Regions from separate parts of the Homo sapiens genome. Here region 2 is reported to be linked to region 1. The links are microRNA targets in miRTarBase. Many come from high-throughput screens and were not tested one by one. Region 1 holds a microRNA gene; the other region holds the end of a gene's coding sequence.
What was found. The annotated mature microRNA hsa-miR-7152-3p reads UCUGGUCCUGGACAGGAGGC and lies in region 1 at 4,001-4,020, shown strand. An mRNA with a match to its seed (bases 2 to 7 or 8) in the 3' UTR can be bound and repressed. Matches are read on the target gene's strand: a 7mer-m8 pairs with bases 2 to 8, a 7mer-A1 pairs with bases 2 to 7 and ends in A, and an 8mer does both.

Region 2: miRTarBase lists GNAZ as a target of hsa-miR-7152-3p. Seed matches in the 3' UTR shown: 7mer-m8 at 5,132-5,138.

What each region holds. Positions count from the first base shown.
Region 1 is chr10:71,786,781-71,793,780 of GRCh38, forward strand. MIR7152 (microRNA 7152) reads left to right here and starts at 3,967; the gene lies at 3,967-4,020. CDH23 (cadherin related 23) reads left to right here. Exons shown (of 70, transcript NM_022124.6): 45 at 2,160-2,262; 46 at 3,508-3,633; 47 at 4,352-4,555; 48 at 6,402-6,860. RefSeq lists an enhancer at 3,508-4,407.
Region 2 is chr22:23,122,048-23,129,047 of GRCh38, reverse strand. It overlaps GNAZ (G protein subunit alpha z), which reads right to left. Exons shown (of 3, transcript NM_002073.4): 3 at 4,016-5,961. The coding sequence ends at 5,617. The region is part of intron 4 of RSPH14 (radial spoke head 14 homolog); the gene reads left to right. Among named protein-coding and RNA genes, the nearest start is that of RSPH14, 16 kb to the left of the region's middle. RefSeq lists enhancers at 329-608, 465-1,052, 1,053-1,642, 2,007-2,884, 6,535-7,000.

The DNA.
Region 1 (7,000 bases):
AGCCACCATGCCCAGCTTCTACTCCCTCATTTTTGCCCCCACTTTTTCTCTTTTCTGCTCTCATTTTTCCTCTCCCTTGCCTGGCTTCAGGAGGGCCCCGGGTAAAAGCAGCATTGAGTGGCAGGACTCGGTGGGCTTAGGGGCTAAGCCCCACTCTGCTGCTAACTCACCACTTGGCTCTGAATGGGCACTCCCCATCTCTGCACCTTGGTTCCCTTGTCTCTGAGGTGGTGACAGTGCACAGGGGTACTGGAGGTTCTGAGGTTTGCGAGTGTGAAGTGAGGCACTGGCAGAGTTTGAATGAACTCCAGCCAGGGCAACAGGAAGGCCTTGAAGGTCGAGAAACAGGACTCATCTTCCCGCCTGAAGTGAGATGGAACAGGATTCAATCCCATTTGCCACACCTCCGTGAAGGAGTTAAATCCCTATTTGCCAGACTAGAAAACTGAGACCCAGACAGGGGAAATGAGGCACCCAAGATCACCCAGAATAGGGTCTTCAACCCAGGTCTTTGAACCCTGGTGTGGGCGCTTTTCAGATTTTTTTTTTTTTTTTTTTTTTAGATTCAGGGAGTACAAGCACAGGTTTCTTAACATGTCCATATTGTGTAGTGGTGAAGACTGGGCTTTTAGTGTACCCATCAGGTGTACCCAAAACTACCTATTATGTCCAATGTTCACTGAACTGTGAACTCACTGCCACTCACTGAACAGTGAACATTGTACCTAATAAATAATTTTTCAACCCTCACCCTCTTCCCATCCTCCCACCCTTCTGAGTCTCCAATGACTCTTATTCCATTCTGTATATCCATGGTTACACATTATTTAGCTCCCACTTATAAGTGAAAATATGCAATATTTGACTTTCTATTTCTGAGTCATTTCACTTAGGATAATGGCCTTCAGTTCCATCCATGTTGCTGCAAAAGACACGACTTCACTCTTTCTTACGGTTGAGTAGTATTCCATGGTCTATATACCACATTTTCTTTAGTCAGTCCTCTGTGGATGGACACTTACATTGATTCCATATCTTTGCTATTGTGAATAGTGTGGCGATAAACATGTGAGTGTAAGTATCTTTTTGATATAACGATGTATTTCCCTTTGGGCAGGTACCCAGTAGAGGGGTATTGTGGGATTGAAGGGTAATTCTGTCTTTAGTTCTTTGAGAAATCTCCATATTGCTTGCCACAGTGGCTGAAGGAATTTACATTCCCACCAGCAGTGTATGAGCATTCCCTTTTCTCTGCATCCTCACCAGTGTCTGTTGTTTTTTTCTTGAGATGGTGTCTTGCTCTCTTGCCCAGGCTGGAGTACAGTGGCACAATCTCGGCTCACTGCAATCTCTGCCTCCTGGGTTCAAGCGATTCTCCTGTCTCAACTTCCCAAGTAGCTGGGATTACAGGTGTAAGCCATCATGCCCAGCTAATTTTTTTGTATTTTAAGTAGAGACAGGGTTTCACCATATTGGCCAGGCTGGTCTCGAACTCCTGACCTTAAGTGATCCGCCCACCTCAGACTCCCAAAGTGCTGGGATTACAGGCGTGAGCCACCATGCCCAGCATGTTGTTTTTTGACTTTTTAATAATAGCCGTTCTGACTGGTGTGAGAGGGTACCTCACTGTGGCTTATTGCATTTCTCTGATGATTAGCAACACTAAGCATTTTTTCTTTTTTTCTTTTTTTTTGAGATGGAGTCTTGCTCTGTCATCTGGGCTGGAGTGCAGTGGCGTGATATCCGCTCGCTGCAAGCTCCGCCTCCTGGGTTCATGCCATTCTCCTGCCTCAGCCTCCCAAGTAGCTGGGACTACAGGTGCGTGCCACCACGCCCAGCTAATTTTTTGTGCTTTTAGTAGAGACGGGGTTTCACCATGTTAGCCAGGATGGTCTCGATCTCCTGACCTCGTGATCTGCCCGTCTTGGCCTCCCAAAGTGCTGGGATTACAGGCATGAGCCACTGCACCCGGCCACATTTTTTCATGTTTGTTGCCCTCTTGTATGTCTTCTTTTGAAAAATGTGAGTTCATGTTGGTGTGGGCTTTTCTGATCATCCACCTCTGTGCCCCAATCCCCAACCTCCCAACCCTCCTCCCACCTAGGTGGGGGCACTTTGCTGAGCATGGCCTACAACGTGCCCCATTCTGCCCCTTGCAGGATTATGACTTGCTTCTGATCTTCCTTTCTGATGAGAATGACAACCACCCCCTCTTCACTAAAAGCACCTACCAGGCAGAGGTGATGGAAAACTCTCCCGCTGGTAGGTGCTGGGCCCACCCGGGAGCTCCTGCTGTTGCCAGGCACCACTGGGGCCTGGGATGCCTGAGGACCTCCCTTATGCCTAACGGCATAGCTGAACCTAGACCCCAGTGGGTGCGGGAGGGGAAGGATGGGTGCAGCTCCGGGAGATGGTGGGCTGGGGCTCCCGGGCCTCCTATGAGCACAAAGAAGCCACAGGTCTGGTTGGAAGAGACAGTCGTGGTCATTGTTCCCCAGGGTGGTCTGAGAGCTGCCCCACCATCCCTCAAGAAGGGCATGTAAGGTGTGAGGACTACCCCGGAGGGGAGTGGGTCCACCCCTCACTGCTCCCTCCACCCCAGGAGTGCAGGGCATCCCAGGGCCTTCTGGAAGCCCTGGGGAGCATCTATAACTAGAAGTGGGAGGTCAGGGGGTCCTGGGTAGGCCAGTGTAGCCCTCTCCCCACACACATGCACTGACCAGGCTCACCTCCCTCCAGAGGGACAGAATCTCCTCTGTGATGTCCCCTGAGGTGGCACCTGCACTCCTCCAGTCTCCCCAGCCCCTGTTCCTCATCTCTGGCTGGGCATCCCCCCTAGGTGAATTTCATTCTTAAACCTGTCTGTGTGTATGCTCACACATGTGCCCGTGTGTGTCCATACCAAGGCATGTGCGTGGGGTTACACATGTGCACAGACACATATAGGTACATGGGTGCCCACTGATGCGCTCGTGTGCAGACATGCCCACCTGCAGAGGCACACGAGTGCACAACCAGGGAATCCCAGGCCTGTGCGTGCTCCTGGACAAGTGCCTGTGGCCATGTGAACACAGAACTTGATGCACACATGAGTGGGTTTTTCTAGTCATGTATGGCCAGGCCCCCAAAGGCAGAGCATTGTGTGAACACATGTGTTGACAGGCGAGACCCACACATGGGGAGGGGATGTCAGGGAGCCCCAGACCCTCCCGAGGAGCGGCCAGCCTCAAAGGCTGCTGGGAAGGCAGATGTGGCTCTGGGCAGCCGGGGCCTTGCTCACCACTCTCATGTTTTCTCCCCAGCAGGGCTTTGAGGCCGCTCCCCAGGCATCTGCGTTCAGTCTGCCAAGGCTGCCGCAGGCCCGCCCCCAGGGCCTCCCCACCCTGTCCACCTCACCTCCCTCCCCTCTCATCCATCGTCAGCCATGGCTCACCGGGACAGGGCAGGGGAGGTGGGAGGGCAGGGGGCTGGGTTGGTCTTGTGGTGACCCCTCTCCTTCTGGCCCAGGCACCCCTCTCACGGTGCTCAATGGGCCCATCCTGGCCCTGGATGCAGACCAAGACATCTACGCCGTGGTGACCTACCAGCTGCTGGGTGCCCAGAGTGGCCTCTTTGACATCAACAGCAGCACCGGTGAGGCCTCTGTGCCACCCAGCACTCCCAGCCTGATTCTGGGGTGGGGATGGCCACACTGCTGGATTGAGGGCCTCCCTTCTCAGTGCTGGACCCAGGCTGTCCGTGGAGACCCCATTTTTCACAGCCCAGAGTCCCCATCTTGCAGCTGGGTTATATCACCCAGTGGCCTGGCAGGGGGACGTGGGAAGAGGCTTGGAGACGATACACAGGACCTCTGTTGGTGCACGAACTCTCAGCCTGGGCCGGGAGCCCCCCAGCCCACTCCCGTCATCTCCCCATGCGCAGGCCAGAGGCTCAGGCCCCTAGTCCAGCAGAAGTAGCCAGAGCGACTTTCCTGTCCTCCAACCAGACCATGCCACATCCGTCTGGTCCTGGACAGGAGGCCGCTTTGGTGACAGGTGCCGACAGGAAAGCACATCTGTCAACAGAGACGGTCAACCCTGTGCCCTGGGTCACTCTTCCCAGGCAAGAGTCTTGAAGACAGCAGAGGGCACCTGCAGAGGGGACAACCACAGGAAATGCATGGGGCCCTCCCTCAGCACGGGTGGTTGAGCCTGTGGGGGAGAAAGTCATTTTGTTACTGCCTCTGCTCCTCTTTCATCTCTGTCCCATGGTGCCCCTGTCTTTCTCTGCTCTCTCCCTGTTGGTTCTTGCCCTGTCTTCCCACCGCACCCCTTTTCTGTGTGTTTCCCTGGCTGGCGGCACCGGGTGCCAGGTGTGGTGACCGTGAGGTCAGGTGTCATCATTGACCGGGAGGCATTCTCGCCACCCATCCTGGAGCTGCTGCTGCTGGCTGAGGACATCGGGCTGCTCAACAGCACGGCCCACCTGCTCATCACCATCCTGGATGACAATGACAACCGGCCCACCTTTAGCCCTGCCACCCTCACTGTCCATCTGCTAGAGAACTGCCCGCCTGGTAAGCAGGGGACAGGCCCCAGCACCCCACAACCAGGGGCCGGTTGGTGGTCACAGGGGACTGGAGCCTCAGGTTGGACACGGAGTTTGCCTCCAGTGGGGAGAAAGATGGGCAGCAGGGTGAGTGTAGAACACACTGGAGAGGGAGTCAGGAGACCTGGGCCCCTGCTTCCCTCCTCTGAGCTTCTGTATCTTGCCTGCAAAACAAGATTCTTTTTTCCTTTCTTTCTTTTTCTTTTCTTTTCTTTTTTTTTTTTTAAGACGGAGTTTTGCTCTTGTTGCCCAGGCTGGAGTGCAATGGCACAATCTCGGCTCACTGCAACCTCAGCCTCCCAGGTTCAAGTGATTCTCCTGCCTCAGCCTCCCGAGTAGCTGGGATTACAGGCGCCCACCACCACACCCAGCTAATTTTTGTATTTTTAGTAGAGACGGGGTTTCACCCTGTTGGCCAGGCTGGTCGCAAACTCCTGACCTCAGGTGATCCACTCGCCTCAGCCTCCCAAAGTGCTGGGATTACAGGTGTGAGCCACCACGCCTGGCCTACAAGATTCCTAAGTATTCTCCATTTGAATTCCCAGATGGAAAGACTGACTATTTTAAAGTCAAAATAGGATCAACATGATTCCCATCAAAATCAAATATAACTTCTGGAAGAATAAGAAAATTTTGAAAAACATAAGTATAATAAGCCAGATTTGGCTTACCAGATTTTATAACATATTATAAAGCTACAGTATTTAAGGCCATGCAATATGGGCACAAGACTCCAGGACAAAGTAGCCCAGAAACAGATACTGGTAAATTAAAGAATAAAATATGATGTGATAAAGGAAGCAATGAGGCCAATGGGGAAGCTACTTATTCAGTGTGCAAAAACCTATTTAATCTAATCAATTACATCCAATTATTATAATCTGTATGTAATCTAATATAATAATAATGTAATATTTAGTGTAGATTCTCCCCCATGTCAGACACCAAAATAAAAACCAAAAGAAAATATTAAAAAGTAGAAAACACTAAACAATAAATGAAGAAAACTTAGGTGAATAACTCATTTCTGGGTAAGAAGGTTCTAAGCATAAAAGAAAAGAACTTAAGAGGAAAAATATTAAATTTCTATGCATGCTAATTTAAACCTTGTTACATCAAATAATTATAGCCAATATTGAAAGGCAAACAACAAACCAAAAAGTATATTTGTCTTGGTCCAGGCGAGGTGGCTCACGCCTGTAATCCCAGCAATTTGGGAGGCTGAGGCAGGTGGATCACTTGAGGTCTGGAGTTCCAGACCAGCCTGACATGGAGAAACCCTTTCTCTACTAAAAATACAAAAAATTAGCCAGGCATGGTAGTGGGTGCCTGTAATCCCAGCTACTCAGGAGTCTGCTGCATAAGAATCACTTGAACCTGGGAAGCAGAGGTTGCAGTAAGCCGAGATCACACCACTGCACTCCAGCCTAGGTGACAGTGTAAGACTCCATCTAAAAAAAAAAAAAAAAAAAAAAAAAAAAAAAAATATATATATATATATATATATATGTCTCAAGTTGTCATAATTATGTGACTTGTATAATTGACAGAAAAATGGACAAAAGACAAAAGCAGACCATTTGCAGAAGATACAACTAATTATTACATTATAAAATATTGTTTAATCAAAGAATATAAAATAAAATAACATGCCATTTTCCTATAAAATTGCAAGTATGAAAAAGGTATAAAAGAAAATGCTGTCAAGGCTGTCATGAGAAGGGGACTTGAGAAGATCACCAACAAATGTGTCTTGGTAGATCTTTCTGGAAGAGGCCACTGTGCGCAGCTACTCCCTTTTCCCTCTCCAACAGGATTCTCAGTCCTTCAAGTCACAGCCACAGATGAGGACAGTGGCCTCAATGGGGAGCTGGTCTACCGAATAGAAGCTGGGGCTCAGGACCGCTTCCTCATTCATCTGGTCACCGGGGTCATCCGTGTTGGTAATGCCACCATCGACAGAGAGGAGCAGGAGTCCTACAGGCTAACGGTGGTGGCCACCGACCGGGGCACCGTTCCTCTCTCGGGCACAGCCATTGTCACCATTCTGATCGATGACATCAATGACTCCCGCCCCGAGTTCCTCAACCCCATCCAGACAGTGAGCGTGCTGGAGTCGGCTGAGCCAGGCACTGTCATTGCCAATATCACGGCCATTGACCACGACCTCAACCCAAAGCTAGAGTACCACATTGTCGGCATTGTGGCCAAGGACGACACTGATCGCCTGGTGCCCAACCAGGAGGACGCCTTTGCTGTGAATATCAACACAGGTACAAGGGCCTGCACCCCTCCCACCTCCCTCCCAGCTCCCAGTCCTGTCTCCTCGCTCCCTGCTTCCCCCTTCTTTCTCCTTTCTCTTTCTTTGCTGTTCCCTTGCTACTCTCTTCTCTCCCCCTCCTCTGGAGGGAAA
Region 2 (7,000 bases), not on the chromosome of region 1:
ATCACCTGTGGGAACGTGGGTGTCACCTGTGTGGCTTAGCTGGGACAGTCTCTGAGCAGGGCTTAGCTGGCTCCCAGTGAATGCTGGTGGCCATTGGTATGGTTTCCTATCAGTGGCCACACTGGAAGGCCGTTTTCACCATGGCACCCTCTGCACCTGGCAGGGCGCCTGGCATGTGGCTAGCGCTCAACAAATATTGGCTGTTTAGTAGGTTTTATGTCATACTTTAAAGGATCAATTGCTGGTTGTCTTCTTGCTACAGTTCACTTACCTGCTTGCTCATTCCTTCATTCATTTGACAGTATGTGTTGGGCCCCTGTTTTGTTCTGGCCACCGTGCCTCAGTTTCTTCCCCTGTGTCATGGGTGTCTGGGAGAGTGGTTTCAGAATCCTTGCTCTGGCCAAGTCTGACTTGCATGATTTCCCAGAGTAACCAGGAGGGGGCACCCCAGGACTGAGGATTGTCCCAAGTGGGCCCTGGCCCTGCAGGGGCCCTGGGCCCAAGCTGCTGCGCTCACCCACACGCATTCCTCTAAGTTCCTTCCAGGCTGGCTACTCATGCGCCGTGGTGGTGCCGTGTCAGGAGAGGAGAAAATAGGATTGTAGAGACAGATGTCACACACAGGCTGCCAGCCCAGGCTCCCTGCCAGCTGGGCCCTGAGTGATGCACAGGGTCTGCTTCTGCTCCCCAGCCCGATGAGAGGGGGAGGCCTGGCAGGCCAGGAACCAAGAGGCCAGAGTGTCCCTATCGGTGACCATCATTCCTGCTAAGTCCAGGAATGGAGTAGAACCCCATGAGAAAACAGGTTTCATTTTTGTGGGAGAGAGAGTTCTGTGGCTGAAATTGACAATTCTTCTCTAACCAGATTTTGGGGTGCAGTTGAACAGCTCAGGGTCCCCCGGAAGTATCCCTCTACCATCCCACTGGTCCTGACTGGGCACACCTGTGAGTCTGTTCTGGCCCTGCCTCCAGTCTCCCTCTCCTTGTGCCAGGCTCTGAGACCCCAGCCCAGCTTTAGCAGCAGCATGATGGGGCCTGTTCTGACCCTGACTCCACACGTGTGCAGCCCGGGGGTGGAGATGGATGACCCTCCCAGCCCGGAGGAGAGCACCAGCCCGAGAGGAGGAGGGAGGCAGCAAGGATGCGCCTGGGCCCTGCCTCTGGAAATTGGCTCCGTGACCTTGGAAAGGAGAACTGGGCTTGGGAAGGGGAGGGTGCCGCGGGTGAAATGTCTGGATGCAGTTTGATCCAAGTCATTTGGGGGTTCAGGGGACATCCCTGGAGTCATAGCATCTAAGCTAGGGAGAAATCTGGGGGTCTACAGCTATACCACCCAGAATGCACCCAATGTCATCTGAACCCCAGGTACGTGGGCTGCTGGAGAAGCAAAGTAGGTGCTCCCACTGCAGTGAGCCGTATGTCTCATTCCAGGCTAGTGGCCTTGGGTGGGCCACCACTGCACCCTGTCCCTCTTCAGCAGCCACCCGTGGACACCCAGCTTCCTTCGATGGACCCAGAGCAGCCTCCTCCTCCTCCTCCCCTTGATGCCACAGGGTGAGGGGTGGAGGCCAGCTGCCCTAGAGGAGCAGGCCCTTTTCTGTCTTGCCTGCCCTCAGGGCAGGGTGCACCAGAACCCCAGGCACATCCTCAGCCTGACAGTCTTTGGTGGGTAGTTGTACCCCATTCCTGGACTTAGCAGGAATGATGGTCACTGATAGGGACACTCTGGCCTCTTGGTTCCCGGCCTGTCAGGCATCCCCATCTCGTCAGGCTCATCTGGGTGAGGTGAGCTCATCCAGGGTGAGGTCCAGCCTCAGTGTTGCCTCAAGTCCTCATGGTGCAGTGCAGCCCTTCCTGGCACTGTCCCCTGAGCCAGATGGACCATTTGTTCTGGAGGGCTGACGTTGGAAGTAGGGTGCCAGGGCCTGTTGCCACTGTGGGGATCTGGGGAATGTGGACAGAGTAAAGCCCCTCAGGTCCTGGCCTGGTGGGGTCACATTGTGTGATGCTGATAAGTCATCGCCTCTCCTGGTCTCTGCTTCCACTTCTGTAGAATGGAATCAAGCATCTTGGCCTCCCATGAGTGTGCCCCCCAGTGAGCAGTCACTGAGGAGAGCTGGGATTATCGTGACCACTGTTGTTGACCCATTGCACCACCAGGGTGACCACGTGGGCTATAGGTGAGGATGGCAATATCCCACAGGGAGCCACATGATGGTGGGTCCTGGGAAAGGAGGCTGGGGCTGCGTGAAGTAGGACAAGGCGGGATTAGTCACCTGCAGTGGGCAGGGCTGGCCCAGCCATCCCCAGGTCCTCCCCTTCAGGCACCCTGCCACCTACTCTAGCCTCCTCTCACCAGCAACCTTGGTGAGTCCTGGTGCTTACCTCCCGTTGGCTAAGACTCCTGGACCATCCCAGCTCAGCATGCGCCTTCTCCATGGGGCATTGTTTGGAGGAATGAGGTGGGTCAGAGGCGCTGGCCTTGAGCTGCTCAATGGAGTTTCCAACACCCCTTCCCACTCGACCCTGGAGCCCTGACAGATGGAATGCAGGGAAGGAGGAGACTTCCAAGAAGCTGCCCAGGTGACTTTGAGCTGTGAGGATGGGGAAGGACATGCTAGGCAAAGGGATCATTGGGGGCAAGAGCGGAACAAGGCAGGCTCAGGAGGAGAACCAGTGCAGGTGAACTGCAGGGGAGGACGGGGCCAGAGAGGTCGACAGCGCCTGAGGTTTCTCTGCAGCCTATGGGGGAACTGGAGACTCCTGGCTAGGTTCTGGGAACCGGGAGAAACCTCCCTCCAGGGAAGGCCTCCTCTGATCTTTGCACACATTAGGAAGGGAGGCTCAATCCCTTTCTCCCTTTAGCCATGTATTTTTAGATTAAAGATGCTCACGGCGAAATTACTGCTCTTTTCACAGTTGGCATTAAAAGCACAAAATAAGTCTCAACGATTTTAAGTCACACGTTATTTCTTCAGAAACAAAAGCCCCTCTGGGTTCTGGCTGTTTGGTGACGTAGGAAGGTGTGAAGGGAGTCCCTGCGTGGGCTTAGGAGTAGGGATGGGGCGGTGACAGCACCAGGGCTGCGTGCGTATCTGCGCGTGTGTGCATGTGCTTGTGTGCATGCATGCGTGTGTGTGCCTGCCGACCCCCCACTTTGCTTGAGGTCCTGCTTTGAGGAGGAGGCTGCAGGGTGGTTCTGTGCTGCTCCCTGTAGGCTTCCATCCTGTGCAGGTGCCAAGCCAGGCAAGGACTCCAGCAGGAGGAAAGATCAGCGTCTCTGCTCCTCCAGTGGGAGCAACAGCTCCCTGGCCTGGTGAATCCTGGCTTGACTGCTCCCTGACCTCAGGCACCTTTCCTCATCTGTAAAATGGGCACCTCTGGCAACCTGCTGAGGTGGGGTGTTACATAAAATCATTAGTAAGGAGCCCGGCTCCGTGCCTGGTTCGCAGCAGGCCCTCGGTGAATGCACTCCGTTGACTTCTGATCGGCACTTTTCCACTATATCCAGATACCTCTAACCACACAAGCCAGTCAGCGAGCACTGCATGCTCAGGGACCCCTCCTCTCCAAAACCCTACAAGGTTTGCCCTACACTACTGGGGGCACAGGAACCCTCCAGGCCCTCAGGGCACCTCTTCCACTCTGCAGGATGACTCTGACATTGGCTGAGGTGTCCACATGGTGGGAGGGGTCCAGGGTATGGCACAGCCTGGGTCAGTGTTGGGTGGGGTCTTGGGGGCAGCGGGAGGGGCAGGAGTCATCATCACCCCCAGACCTCCACACCAGGACTGCATGGACCTGGCAGGTTTCCCCTCTTTGCAGTTTCTTTCCTCTCGTGATGTTTATTTGTGATGTTCATTGCAAAATGACTCTACCTAAATGTGTGGAGGTATAGGGGTGGGGTTTGGAATATGGGACCTCAGAATGGAGGTGTCCCCGGCTGCCCTTCCAGATGGCACCAAGTCCAGCCACAGGTCAGCTACACACATAGCACACTGGGACAATGCTGGGCTCCATTCAGGGTATTTTATTTTCTTAAAGTAGACAACCTTTGACTTTCATCCAATCCCCAGCTTCTCTTTCCCCCGTACATCTCTTCACGTCCTTGGCTGTGATTCCGCACACTGACCTCGGACACACAGCTACTGCACGGAGAGAGGGAGGGAGATCTGGCAAGGGCTCCGGCAGTGCCTCTCCTCTCCATGGCGCAGTTCGTATTTACACACGGCCCTTGGCGAACGTCCTTTCAACGCAGTTGCCCATAGGCCCTGGGACAGGAAGGCCCAGATCAGGGTCCCAGCAGGGCCTCCCTCAGGCCACAACGCTGGCTGTGCCTTCACAGGAGTCAGAGCATTTCCAGCCAGTCTCAGGCGCGGGGCATGCTGGGACCAGGGGCACCACCCCTTGCTCCCCTTCCTTCACTCAGCAAAGCCACAAATAATTTACTCTTTAAATACCAAGACACTTAGCTATTGTTCATTTGCTCCCAGGTGAAAGAACCTTCTTTAAATATGTCGTGTTTATTTTCTTAAATAAAAACAAAGCAGAAAACCCCACCATTAACAAGAGGACACTGCAGAGGCTTATGTACAACACGTGTCCCGCGAGGCTGGCGCAGGACTGCCACTCACTCCAAAATTTCTTTGGAGCAGAGAGACAGATCGTCCAGATAACAACTTTTACACTCAGCAAGCCAGACACAAAAAAGACCACCTGAAAAAAAATATGTTTTGAAAATCTGCATTTAAAAAAGAATACTCAACTGCATTTGAAATTTTCTGGATTTTTTTCTGCGAAACACCACGAGATTTGGCCAAAAAAAAAAAAAAACCAAAAAACAAAACAAAAAAAAAATGTCAGAGAAGGAAAACCAGGTTTTGATTTATAAAACATCAGACTAGTAGAAGAAAAGCTGGAATCCCAGCTGGCCTAGTTTGAAATAAATCGTGCCACTCGTTTTGTTGTATTGGTTTTTGCTGCATATTTTGAAGCTGTTTTTTAAAAAGAGCTGTGAGTGGCTGGAGGTCTGGTTAGTGCTGTCACCCGGCTCCTAAGGTCCCAGGTCCAGAATGAAAGTGGTGCTGAGCAGCTGTGTGCAGGCCAGCAGGGAAGGTGCACAGACCCTGCACTGGTCCTCCCTCTTGGTCAGCGGCAAGGTCCCTAGGCCAGAGCTCGGGCAGCGAGCTGGCCCTCCTCCAGGCGACAGGGGTGCAGTTGGCCTACCTTGCCTCAGCCCTGCTGCCTATCCCTAACAATCCAATGCAGACCCCCAAGTGGAGTGGGGCCAACTCAGGAAGGCAAAGTGAAGGGGCAGGTTGGGCTTGTAGTGACCTTGTGACAGCTTCTCAAGTCTTCAAGAGACCTCGACATTTTAGAGGATTTTGCCATCTCCAGATGTGTGTGTGTGCATGTGTGTGTGTCTATCTACCTAGCAATCTATCCGTAAATATTTATGTTTGCAGAAATGTGGGGCCAAGGAGGCAGAGGCCAAGGGGTGGGGGACATTCTTTAGGCCCCCTGTTTTCTGCCCCTGGATTGGGCCTCTCTAGCACGCGTTGGGGCATGACACCCCGTGGGTTTCACCATAGGCAGGCGGGCCCCGGGCCCAGCTCCTCAGCAAAGGCCAATGTACTTGAGATTGTTCTGTATGATGACGTCTGTCACCGCGTCGAAGACAAACTGGATGTTACTGGTGTCGGTGGCGCAGGTGAAGTGGGAGTAGATCTCCTTGGTCTCCTTGTTGCGGTTCAGGTCTTCAAACTGCCGCTGGATGTAGACAGCGGCCTCCTCGTACGTGTTCTGGCCCTTGTACTCGGGAAAGCAGATGGTGAGCGGGATGCGGCGGATCTTCTCTGCCAGCAGGTCCTTCTTGTTCAGGAAGAGGATGAGTGAGGTGTTGATGAACCAGTTGTTGTTGCAGATGGAGTCAAAGAGGCGCAAGCTCTCTGCCATCCGACTCTGGGGAAAGGAAAGTACTGGCGTTAATCAGGCCCGCAGCAGGCAGAGACAGACCCTAGACCTGCAGCCCTGCCAGAGGAAGCCTTTGCTAGGGTCTCAGCCCAAGACTGGTCCCTGCAATGGCACCTCCTTCTGCTGGGGAAGCCCAGGTTAAATGTCTTCACCCACCTCCCACGGAAATAGCCGGCAGCACCCTCCTTGCCAGTGGCAAGTGCTTGGAAGATGTTCTCTTGCCCCTTTTGGGTCTCTCCTCTGGGTGCCAGTGATCTCAACATATAGCTTTGGGGCTACAGATGTGCCAAGCACAGCCTCCTAAACCGCTGGGCACCTCCAGCTCCGAGGACCCCCCATCTTCCCACTGCCCATCCACAGGCTGCCCCACACCTGTACAAGGAAGGCCATCTTCTGCAGGAGCCCCCGTCACATCATAGCTCCCTCAATGCAGGCGCTGGCAGCCTTGTGCCCTATCTGGGTTCTGGCCCAGTCCTTCAAAACTCTGATCCTTCCATGTGGTACCATCGGACACTAGGAAGTCTGTGAGGGAGCAGCCTTCACTTCTGTAACCAAAGTCTCCAGTTCTTGAGAGCTGGGAAGGAAACACCAGCCAGAGGCCAGGCTCCTCCCCTGCCCTCCAGCTGTGGGCACTCCCACCAGCTGCTGTGGGGCATCTGGCACCGCCTCTCTGCCGAGGCAGGACCCTGGCATCCTGGACAGAGCTCTCAGTACATGCAGAGGACAGGAGTGTGGTGGGCCAGGAAGAGGCAGTGACCACAACGGAGTGTGGCGCCTGTCCGCTCCTCAATTCTCTTCTGAGAATCTTCGATGTGTTATAGCCAGGGGTCTGGGCTTTTAAGAAGCATGATGCTCTTGTCTGACTCCCCAGTTCACCACTTCCCTGCAAAATGAATAAATTCTAACTTCTAAAAGGAGTAACTACCTGGAATTTGCTGCTGGCAAAAGCTACCCCTGCTTCTAAGATAAACTCAATGAGCAAAATATCAAAAATCTGGAACCAATCTGGCTTAGATCTGATGCTTTG